Linked DNA regions of Homo sapiens: region 2 is linked to region 1. A link means that fine-mapping ties the variant in region 1 to the expression of a gene that starts in the linked region. Tissue or cell type: whole blood. Region 1 holds a variant in brackets; the other region holds the start of a gene. All regions are shown on one strand. Distances are from middle to middle.

Region 1 (5,673 bases):
GATGACTGAGGGGTGAAAACCCTTGGCCTTGGAGATGGAGTTGGGACCTATGAAGAGAAAAAAACATCAGCTCTTGGAAAGGAAAGAGAAAGGTAAATAATAGAAAACAGAAAAATAATAGGGAAAATTAATGAAACAAAAACTAGTTCTTTGAGGAAAAAAATCAATAAAATTGATAAACATCTAAAAACTGATAAAGATAAAAAGCAAGAAGATATAAATCATCATCAGAGATGAAACAGGGACTATTACAACAGACCCTGAAGCCATTAAAAATATAAACGAATACTACAGAAAACTTTACATTCATAAATCTGACAACTTATCAGAAATGGACCCATTCCTCAAGAACCATAAACTACCAAAACTCAGTCACAATGAAAGAAGATCTGGATAGTCCTATAACCATTAAAGAAATTGAGTTTGTAATTTAAAAGCTCCCAAAAAAGAAATCTCCAGGCCTAGATGGTTTCACTGGAGAATTTCACCAGTCAAAGAATTAATGCAAAGTTTATGTAATCTCTTCCAGAAAATAGAAGGAACACTTCCTAACTAATTTCATGAGGCCAGTATTACCCTGATGCCAGCAACAGAAAAAGATAGCAGAAAATAAAACTACACATCAATATTTCTCATGAACTTAGACACAAAAATCCTCAACAAAATTTTAGCAAATCAAATAATGTATATAAAAAATAATATTCCACAAGAAAGTGGGATTGATTCCAGGTCATACAAAGCTGATCCAAGATATTTAAAAACCAATCAATTTAATCCCCTATACCAACAAACTAAAGAATGAAAATAACATGATGACAGAAATGATGCAGAAAAAACATTTGACAAAATTCAACACCGATTCATGATCTAGTACACAAGGTGTTATGGTCTGAATATGCTCCCCAAAGTCATGTGTTGAAAACTGAATCCTCAATGCAACAGTGTTGGGAAAGTGGGACTTTTTGTAAGTGTTTAGGTCATGAGGGCTCTGCCCTCATTAATGGATTAATGCCACTACAAAAATGACTTGCAGGAGTGGGTTTGCTTTCTCTTGCACATCTGCTATCTGCCATGTGAGAACACAGCAGCAAGGCACCATCTTGCAACTAGAGGGTGGAACCGTACCTGCTGGAACCATACCTGCTGGTGCCTTGATCTTGGACTCCAGAACCATAAGAAATAAATTTCTGTTCTTTATAAATTTCCCAGTCTGTGGTATTCTGTTATAGTGGCACAAAATGGATTAAGACACAAGGAATAGAGGGAAATGTCCTTGGTCTCATAAAGAGCATCTGTGAAAAACCTAAAGCTAACATCATGCTTAATGCTGAAATATTGAATGTTTTTCCTCTAAGACTGGAAACAAGGCAAGAACATTCATGTTCACTATTTATTTATTTTTTTTGAGACAGAGTTTCGCTCTTGGTGCCCAGGCTGGAGTGCAATGGCACAATCTCAGCTCACTGCAACCTCCACCTCCCGGGTTCAAGCGACTCTCCAGCCTTGCCTCCTGAGTAGCTGGGATTACAGGCATGCGCCACCATGCCCGGTTAATTTTATATTTTTAGTAGAGATGGGGTCTCACCATGTTGGCCAGGCTGGTCTCAACTCCTGACCTTAGGTGATCCACCCACCTCAGTTTCCCAAAGTGCTGGGATTACAGGTATGAGCCACAGCGCCTGGCTTATGTTCACTATTCTTATTTAACAGAGACTGGAAGTCCTAGTCACTACAATAAGGCATAAGAAAGAAATTAAATGCATATAGATTGAAAAGAAAGAAAACTATCTATTTGCAGATTTGTAGACAGCATGACTGTCTATTAGAAAACCCCATGGAATCCACAAAAAACTTCTATAACTATTCAGGAAAGTCACAGGATATAACCAGATCAACACATAAAAATCAACTGCATTTCTATATACTCACAATGAACAAGTGGAAACCAAGAAATTTGATTTTAAACTGCTGAAGAAAAAAATTAAATACTTAGTAGGCATGAGCTGACAGGTGATATAAAAAATTAAATACTTAAGTATGAATTGGACAAAATATGTACAGGATTGGTGTGACAAAAATTATAAAACGCTGATGGAGAAACATGCCACATTCATGGACTGAAAGACTGAACCTAGTAAAGATGTCAGTTAGGAACTTGTATTTGAATACTCATAGCAGCTTTACTCATAATACCCCAAATTGGAAACTATCCGAATGTCCTTCAAAGTTTGAATGGCTAAAAAAATTAAAACTGGGGCCGGGCGCGGTGGCTCATGCCTATAATCCCAGCGCTTTGGGAGGCCGAGGCGGGCGGATCACGAGGTCGGGAGATCAAGACCATCCTGGCTAACATGGTGAAACCCCATCTCCACTAAAAATACAAAAAATTATCCGGGCGTGGTGGCGGGCGCCTGTAGTACAAGCTACTCGGGAGGCTGAGGCAGGAGAATGGCGTGAACCTGGGAGGCAGAGCTTGCAGTGAGCCAAGATCGCGCCACTGCACTCCAGCCTGGGCAACAAAGCAAGACTCCATCTCAAAAAAAAAAAAAATTAAAACCATGGTACATTCACACCATGGAATACTACTCTGCAATAAGAATGAGTGAACTACTGGTACACAGAACAACTTGAATGAACCTCAAAGAAGTTATGCTAAGGGAGAAAAGCCAATCTCAAAAGGATACATATTGCCATGATTCTATTTAAGTAACAATCGTTAAATAACAATGATAGAGCTGGAGAACATATTGGTGAAGCCAAGGATGAGGGAGGCAGAATAAGTGCAGCTATAAAAGAGGTAACAC[A/C]AGAGAGTCTTGTGGTGATGGTAAAATTGAGTATCTTGATTTTGGTGGTGGTTACACACCACAATGTGACAAAACTGCATAAACACACATAAACACACACCTAACAATATGTAAAACTGGTGGAGACTGAATCTGAAATCTGAATCCATGGATTGTACTAATGGCAATTTCTTGGTTTTGATAGCGTACTGTGGTTGTGTGAGATGCCGACACGGGGCGGGGTGTTGTTGGGATGCAGGAGACATCCCAGTACATTTCTTTGCCACCTCCTGTGAATCTATGGTTATTTTTAAATGAAAAGAGACGGGGAGAGGGAGAGAGAGAGGAGAGGAGGGGAAGGGGAAAAGGGGAGACAAGGGAGGGAAGAAAGGGAGGGAGGAAAGGGAGGGAAAAAAAGAAAAGGAATTAGGGTGGGGATTGAAGGTGGGACAAGATGAGCCATCAGAGCTTCTGCCTGGTAACTGTATCCAAATCTCCCTGGATTCTGTTCTCCGGCAGCTCTAGCAAGCTTCTGGCCTCACATCTTAACAGTATCCAATCCCCCCGGGCACTTTGGCCAGAACCTCTTTCCTCTCCCTCAGTACCCCCAACCACACACACACCTCTCCAAACTATCAGCAATTCTGTCAGTTCTATCTACTAAGTACTAAGTATTTCAAATCCAACCTCACTGGCTAGCTTTAGTTATTTCATGTCTTCATCATCCCTTACTATAGCCTAACTCCCTCCAGCCTGGCCCTTCCTAACATACAGCTAATTATGTCACTCTTCCTAAAACTGTTCAATAGCTCCTCCCTGTCAAGTTTAAGTTCTTTAGCACAGAATGCTAGGTCCTTAGTGATCTAACTCCTACCTGTTGTTCCAGCTTCATCTAACTTCACAGCCACAAACACCTGTGTTGCAGCCCCAATTAAATAATAGTAATTCTCAAAAGGCTTCGGCTTACTCTTGCTTCAGTGCCTTTGTACATGCTATTCTCTGTGCCTGAAACAGTCTTCACTTGCTCATCCCTTTGCCTAAAACCTTTTAATCTTTGAAACTCTGATCAAACATCCGACTTGTTCTGAAACACTCCCTGGACTGCCCCCACAACCTCACCATACAGAGTAAACTACTTTCATCTGTGTGATCTTATAGCCCCTTGCCATACCCCAATCATGGTATTTATGAATTTTACTGTAGCTATTTTTTTTTTTTTTTTTTTGAGACGGAGTCTCGCTCCGTTGCCAGGCTGGAGTGCAGTGGTATGATCTGGGCTCACTTCAACCTCCACCTCCCAGGTTCAAGTGATACTCCTGCCTCAGCCTCCCGAGTAGCTGGGACTACAGGCACGTGCCACCATGCCCAGATCATTATTTTGTATTTTCAGTAGAGATGGGGTTTCACCATGTTGGCTAGGATGGTCTCGAACTCCAAACCTCATGATCTGCCCGCTTTGGCCTCCCAAAGTGCTGGGATTACAGGCGTGAGCCACCACGCCAGGCCTACTGTAGCTATTTTTTACATATCTATCTTTCGACTACACTATGAGCTACTTGAGGGCAAGTATCACAATTTTTGCACCTTTATGTCCTAAGAGCCTAGTAGTTCAATAAACAGTTATTTATTATAAAAAGAACTGAATCTATGTTCTATGGAAGTTGGGAATTTTCATCAGTTTTGTTCACAATATATTCCAAGTGCCCAGAACCATGCTTGGCACGTATTATTGAATGAACAAATGAATGAACAAACGAGGTCTTACCTGGTGAGAAGGCTGGGATCCCAATCTGTAAGATGATGTCTCTTTAGAGTGGAGGGTAGCTCCCACAACAATCCGGGGGAAGGGGAAAGGGGGAGACTGTTGGCCCAAGACAGCAGAACCTTGAGCATGAAAAAGCCGATCTCTTAGCTGCTGAACTGGTGGCTATAAGTTTTAATGAGGAAGAGCTGTGTCAAGAAATTAAAACAATCAAGGCCCCAGGTAGCAGTCAAATTTCAGCTGACCCTCTACACCAAGCTTGTCCAACCTGTGTTATTTTGTTGTTGTTGTTGTTCTGTTCTGTTTTGTTTTGTTTTAGGTTTTTAGCAGCCTGAAGCCATGGTTTTTGGTTTGTCTCTAGTGATAAGTGGAAAACCGGGATGAGGAAGGGGCTTTACTGGCCCAACCAGAAACAGAAACTAAGCACCCACGACTGTATTCTGACCCTTGGACACCCCCGCTCTATACTCTAGCCCCCTTAGAGATGACTCAAGGTTCCTGAATCCCTGCCAAACACTTGCATGCCTCCCTCCTTGCTATTCTTTCTGCTTAGAATGCTCTATATCTGCTGGTAAGCTACTTCTCTTTGAAGGTCCAGCTCAGCTGTTTTAACCATTGAGAAGCCTTCCTTGACTTCTCCAGGCAAAAATCAGTCCCTTCCCTGGACTCCCACAGTGCTCAGTATAAGCTTCTGTTATGGCACTATAAGTCATCAACATCTGATCTTCCCCCAGTAGATTGTGAGGTGCTTAAGGGATTCCATCTTATCTATCCTAGGAGCTTCAGCATTAGCATAGTGCCTGGAATATGGAAGTGCTCAATCAATGTTAGATGACTGAATGAAATGGTTTGCTCTCTCCACATGGCCCCACTTACCTGAGCACAGTCCCTGGGTAGAAAGCTCATGGCAGTGGCCAGGCTGCCCTGGGCTGCCAGGAGGTTGGCATACTGAGTGACCCTGTAGGTTGTGGCAGGGCCTGGGCTCACCCCATGAGGACCCCGCAGTTGCTCCAAGCTCCTGTTAAGAACCATCACCTTCTCCATCAGGTCCTGTAAGGGCAAGGATGAGGGTGGTAAGCCTTCAATGAGGCATATCCTGCTCTCTAAGTCCACGCAGCTCATTCAGGG
Region 2 (5,642 bases), 41 kb after region 1:
GTTGTAAGGATTCTTTATGTATTCTAGATACAATTCCCTGATCAGATACACAATTCATAAATATTTTCTCTGACTCTGTAGGTTTTTTTGCTTTTTTACAGTATCATTTGGAACCCTGTGTTTATCAGGAAGGGGTGTTGGGGTTTGTCAAAAGCTTTTTCTGTGTCTATTGAGATGATCATGTAGGGTTTTTTCTTTTACTAATATAGTGTATTATGTTGATTATAAATATTAATCAATAAAATATTGATTACTACATGGTGTGTTATATTGATCATTCTGAGATGTTGAACTGACCTTGCATTCCTGGAATAAATCCCACTTGGTCATAGTATATAATTCTTTTATATGGTGTTACACTGAGTTTGCTAGTATTCTGTTAGGATTTTTGCATCTATATTCATAAGAAATATTGGTCTATAGTTTTCTTTCTTTCTTTTTTTTTTTTTTTGAGACGGAGTATCGCTCTGTTGCCCAGGTTGGAGTGCAGTGGTGCAATCTCGGCTCACTGCAAGCTCCGCCTCCCAGGTTCACGCCATTCTCCTGCCTCAGCCTCCTGAGTAGCTGGGACTACAGGTACCCGCCACCATGCCCGGCTAATTTTTTTGTATTTTTAGTAGCGACAGGGTTTTACCGTTTTAGCCAGGATGGTCTCGGTCTCCTGACCTCGTGATTCACCCGCCGTGGCCTCCCAAAGTGCTGGGATTCCAGACATGAGCCACTGCACCCAGACCAGTGTTAATTTTTTAAAAAATGTTTGGTAGGATTCATCAGTAAATCTATCTGGTCTTGAGCTTTTCTTTTTCTTTTTCTTTTTTTTTTTTCCTGAGATGGAATCTTGCTCTGTTGCCCAGGCTGGAGTCAGTGGCACGATCTCAGCTCACTGCAACCTCCGCCTCCGGGATTCAAGCGATTCTCCTGCCTCAGCCTCCCAAGTAGCTGGGACTACAGGCGTGCACCACCATGCCTGGCTAATTTTTGTATTTTTGATAGCGATGGGGGTTTTACCATGTTGGCCAGGCTAGTCTCGAACTCCTGACCTCAGGTGGTCCCCCCGACCTCGGCCTCCCAAAGTTCTGAGATTACAGGCATGAGCCACTGTGCCCAGCCTTTTCTTTTCTTTTGAGACAAGGCCTAGCTCTGTCTCAAAAGGCTGGAGTGCAGTGGTGCAATCTCAGTTGACTGCAACCTCCACATTCCGGGCTCAAGTGATCCTCCCACTTCAGCTTCCCGAATAGCTGGAACTACAGGCGTGCCACCATGCCTGCTAATTTTTTTTTTTTTTTTTTTTTGGCTGGGGGGATTTGGTAGAGATGGGGTTTCTCCATGTTGCCCAGTCTGGTCGCGACCTTCTGGGCTCAAGTGATTCGCTTGCCTCTGCCTCCCAAAGTGTAGGGATTACAGATGTAAGCCACCATGCCCAGTTTCTGGGCTTTTCTTTATGGGATGTTTTTGATTCCTAATTCAATCTCTTGTTACAGGTCTATTCAGATTTTCCATTTCTTCTTGAATCAGCTATTATAGCTTGTGCCTTTCTAGGAATCTGTCCATTTCATCTAGGTTCTGTAATTTTTTGACATACAATTGTTTACAGTATGTCCTTATATGCTTTTTTTGGGGGGTAAAGTCAGCAGTAATATCCCTGTTTCATTACTGATTTTAGTTCTTTTAATCTTCTTGATCTTAATTAATTTATTTATTTTTAGTAAGACAGGATCTTGCTCTGTCATCCAGGCTGGAGTGCAGTGGCATGATCATGGCTCATTGCAGCCTGCACCTCCCAGGCTCAAACAATCCTCCTACCTCAGCCTCCCTAGTAGCTGGGACTACAGGCATGCATCAACGCACCGAGCTAATTTTTAAAATTTTTTGTAGAGATGAGGTCTTGCTATGTTGCCCAGGCTGATCTGGAACACCCAGGCTCAAGTAATCCTCCTGCCTCAGCCTTGAAAAGTCCTGGGATTACAGGCATGTGCCACCATGCCTGGCCTAATTTATTTTTAATTCCCAAGGTTATGAATTAATACATTCTTGTAAAAATTCAAACATTCAGCCTGAGCAACATGGCAAAACCCTTTCTCTACAGAAGGAAAAAAAATTAGTCCGGCATGGTGGTGTGTGCCTTTAGTCCCAGCTACTTGGGAGGCTATGGTAGGAGGATTGCTTGAGCTGGGGAGGTGGAGGTTGCAGTGAACCAAGATTGCATCACTGCACTCCAGCCTGGGTGACAGAGTGAGACCCTAGCTCAAAAAAAAAAAAAAAATTCAAACACTGCAGATAAAATGAAAGCCTTGATTGCCCCCTGCAGCCTCAAACACTTCCACAGAGGTAGCCCTATTATCGGTTTGGTGTAGCATGGTTACTATGTAGCATAATTACATAGTTAAGCCAGTGCATTCATTTCTATTACTGCATAACAAATTACTGTAAATTTAGCAGCCCAAAACACCAATTTATTTTCTCACATATTCCATGAGTCCAGGTACTGGTTGGCTGAGTCCTCAGCTCAGGGTCTTATCAGGCTGAAATCAAGGTGTTGGCTGGGTTAGCGATCTCATCTGAGGCTCCGTGTGTGTCCTTTCCCAAGTTCAGTGGTTGTTGCCAGAATTCAGTTACTTGCATTTGTAGGATTAAGGTGCCCACTTTCTTGTTGGCTGTCACCCAGGAGCCTTTCTCAGCTCCTAGAGTCCACCTGCCATTTCCTGCCATATGGCAGTTTGCTCCTTCAAGGTGAACAGGACAGCTGTGCTGTGGCTTCAAATCTCTTAGATTCTGTCTCTGACCTCTAGCCCTGATTTAAAGGGCTAGAGTGATAAGATGAAGCCCACCAGGATAAATCACCTCTTTTTGACTGCCTTAAAGTTAATTGATTAGGGACTTTAATTACATCCTTGTCATATAAGCTAACCTAATTACAGGAGTGATGCTCTATCATATTCACAGTCGTGTTTTCTTTTAAGGGGAGAAATGTATACAGGATGTGTACACCGTAGGGTACAAATCTTGGGATACATCTTAGAATTGGGCCTCTCACAGCCAGCCATAAGAACTGTCCAAGTAAGCAATAGAGGTATTAATATGGCCTTTTATAATCAGTATAGATTGTTTGAAAATGTGAGATGTCCATGGTTGGCCTCTAATAACATTCGATTCACGGCAAACATATATTCAAGTAGGAGACATGGTGATATAGGCAGAAAAATCAAATGATGCTAAACAAAAGAAAACTGTCTTTGATTTTGAAAGAATTCAACTTGCTGTATATCTTTTGCCTAAGCCTTCAGTCAGCCTTTGCTCTACATCTACCAATGTGATCACTGCTTTTCCTTCTGACTTCTTTAGGTGGGTCAAGAGTTTGCTTTTCTCCCCATTCATGAGTGTAAAGTTTAATGCCTAACTGAACTTGCTTCCTTCTTTGACTCTTGTGTAGACTCGGGCACATGGGGCAACTTTTTTTGTGTTTTGCTCTACCAGGTCGTCCCTATTCCGTGGGACTAGTGTCTAGCCCCATTTCTTCAGCAGTGGAGCCTAGGATGTAGAGCTGCATACTACCATTAGGAGGCGCACCCTCAGGCCTCGGCTCCGCGTTCTTTATGTCTCTGGACCGCTCTCTCTCGCAGCTCATCTCTATGGTTTCCGTTGGGTGTGTGGTTTTTTTGTTTTTTTTTTTTTGGGGTCCGGAATAGGCGGAGCTTCCGGTTCCGGTGGGGGCCGTCCCTGGCGGCGGAGATGGCGGCGACAGCGGCGGAGGCTGTGGCCTCTGGCTCTGGAGAGCCCCGGGAGGAGGCTGGAGCCCTCGGCCCCGCCTGGGATGAATCCCAGTTGCGCAGTTATAGCTTCCCGACTAGGCCCATTCCGCGTCTGAGTCAGAGCGACCCCCGGGCAGAGGAGCTTATTGAGAATGAGGTGGGGGGCGGGGCCGCGTCTAAAGGGAGAGGAGGAAGGTACCCGGTTGAGAGGTCAGAGGTGAATGGTGAAAGAGATGGGAGACTGGCAGGGCTCTAGACTAGGGCCTATGGGAAGATGGAGAGAAAGGCGAGGAGATACGGAACTTAGGGGTTCGTGCTGATTAACAGGAGAAATTATTCTGAAGTTGAGAAGTAGTTGGGATCATGGAGGCCAACCCACCGGCTCCTTGGCATTACTTCATTTGGTGTTTTTCACCTGTTGTTTTCATTTAGGAGCCTGTGGTGCTGACCGACACAAATCTTGTGTATCCTGCCCTGAAATGGGACCTTGAATACCTGCAAGAGAATATTGGCAATGGAGACTTCTCTGTGTACAGTGCCAGCACCCACAAGTTCTTGTACTATGATGAGAAGAAGATGGCCAATTTCCAGAACTTTAAGCCGAGGTCCAACAGGGAAGAAATGAAATTTCATGAGTTCGTTGAGAAACTGCAGGATATACAGCAGCGAGGAGGGGAAGAGAGGTAAATTCCGAAAGCTTAATTTTCTGTTGGATTTAGGACACTCATTTTTCTTTCCTATACTTGTTTGAAGGTGTGGCAGAATTGGGTCAATTAGAGATTGGCCTCTCCCATCTCTGGATTCCAGTTGAAGGAGTAGTCTGGTCTTCCAGCCTTTAAGGGGTTTGAGTTCTTAGTGGTTCTTGGTGCTACAGCCAGCTAGTTCTGTAGCTTGAGGGATGAGGGAATGATTAAACTTGAGCTATGAATCTCTGGGTTCCCATCTTCTTCCTCATAAAGAGTTAGTTGCCTAGAAGGGTCAGGCAGGTGAATGGAAGGAGTAATATCGTCTGTGTGAAATCAGTGATGAGGCTGAAGGCATAAGCCTTGTTCAAAGTGAGAAGCCAAGGCCGGCGGGGGTGGCTCATGCCTGTAATCCCAGCACTTTGGGAGGCCGAGGTGGGAGGATTGCTTGAGTCCAGGAGTTCAAGACCAGCCTGGGAAACGTGGTGAGAGCTAGTCTCTGCAAAATTAAAAACTAAAACAAAAAACCATGGTGAGAGGTCATTACTTGACTCTGCTTGCTTCAGTTTTGGAGTGCAGTTCTAGGGTTGGGAGATATTCCGATTTTCAAGAGAAGTTCAAAATCAGGATTTTTATTTAAAATCTTTTGACTTTAAATGGAGCAACTAAATCAGATTTAAAGAAAAAAAGTTGCAGGGGGCCAAACAAAAATGTTTGTCACTGGATTTAGCTCTGAAAATGCCTGTTTGTAGCCATTGTCCTTAAGTATTGTGATGACTGAGGATAGTTCAACCTGAAAAGTTGTATAGTTTGTTGTGATTCTGCAGTAAAGAAGGTTAGGATTCTCTAGCTTAGGGAAGATCAGATTAAATTTGTTTTTCCTATCACAACAGCAACACAAGACACACAAGACAGTGATTCTTCCTCTCTGCTTTTATTCCTGCTTATGAGGACAGCCTCTTATGTAGGTCCGAGACAGTATTCAGTCCCACACTATAACACTGCCTCTGGGGAATTGCTTTCGCTCAGTACTTCACGGTGAATTACCCTCTCGCATTTGGTGTCCAACCCTGGGTTTCTCTCTAGTCTCTTGCTTCACTCACTCCTGTTCCTGACTCCTTATCAGCAGTCTGTGGCTAAGTGAATGGATTTGAAATATCTTTTTTTCTTCTTCTTAACACTTAGCAGTTGTCATAATGATGGGATTTTT

The links. PIP is the estimated chance that this variant, and not a neighbour inherited with it, causes the effect.
Region 2: HIF1AN starts here. The variant in region 1 is fine-mapped to the expression of HIF1AN in whole blood (TOPMed, PIP above 0.99).

The regions. Positions count from the first base shown.
Region 1 is chr10:100,490,837-100,496,509 of GRCh38, forward strand. It overlaps SEC31B (SEC31 homolog B, COPII component), which reads right to left. Exons shown (of 26, transcript NM_015490.4): 18 at 5,422-5,595; 19 at 4,549-4,710; 20 at 1-47. Among named protein-coding and RNA genes, the nearest start is that of SEC31B, 26 kb to the right of the region's middle. The variant A/C (reference allele first, on the strand shown) is at 2,805.
Region 2 is chr10:100,532,230-100,537,871 of GRCh38, forward strand. It overlaps HIF1AN (hypoxia inducible factor 1 subunit alpha inhibitor), which reads left to right and starts at 3,714. Exons shown (of 8, transcript NM_017902.3): 1 at 3,714-3,906; 2 at 4,182-4,432. The coding sequence starts at 3,730. RefSeq lists enhancers at 3,474-3,563, 3,634-3,693.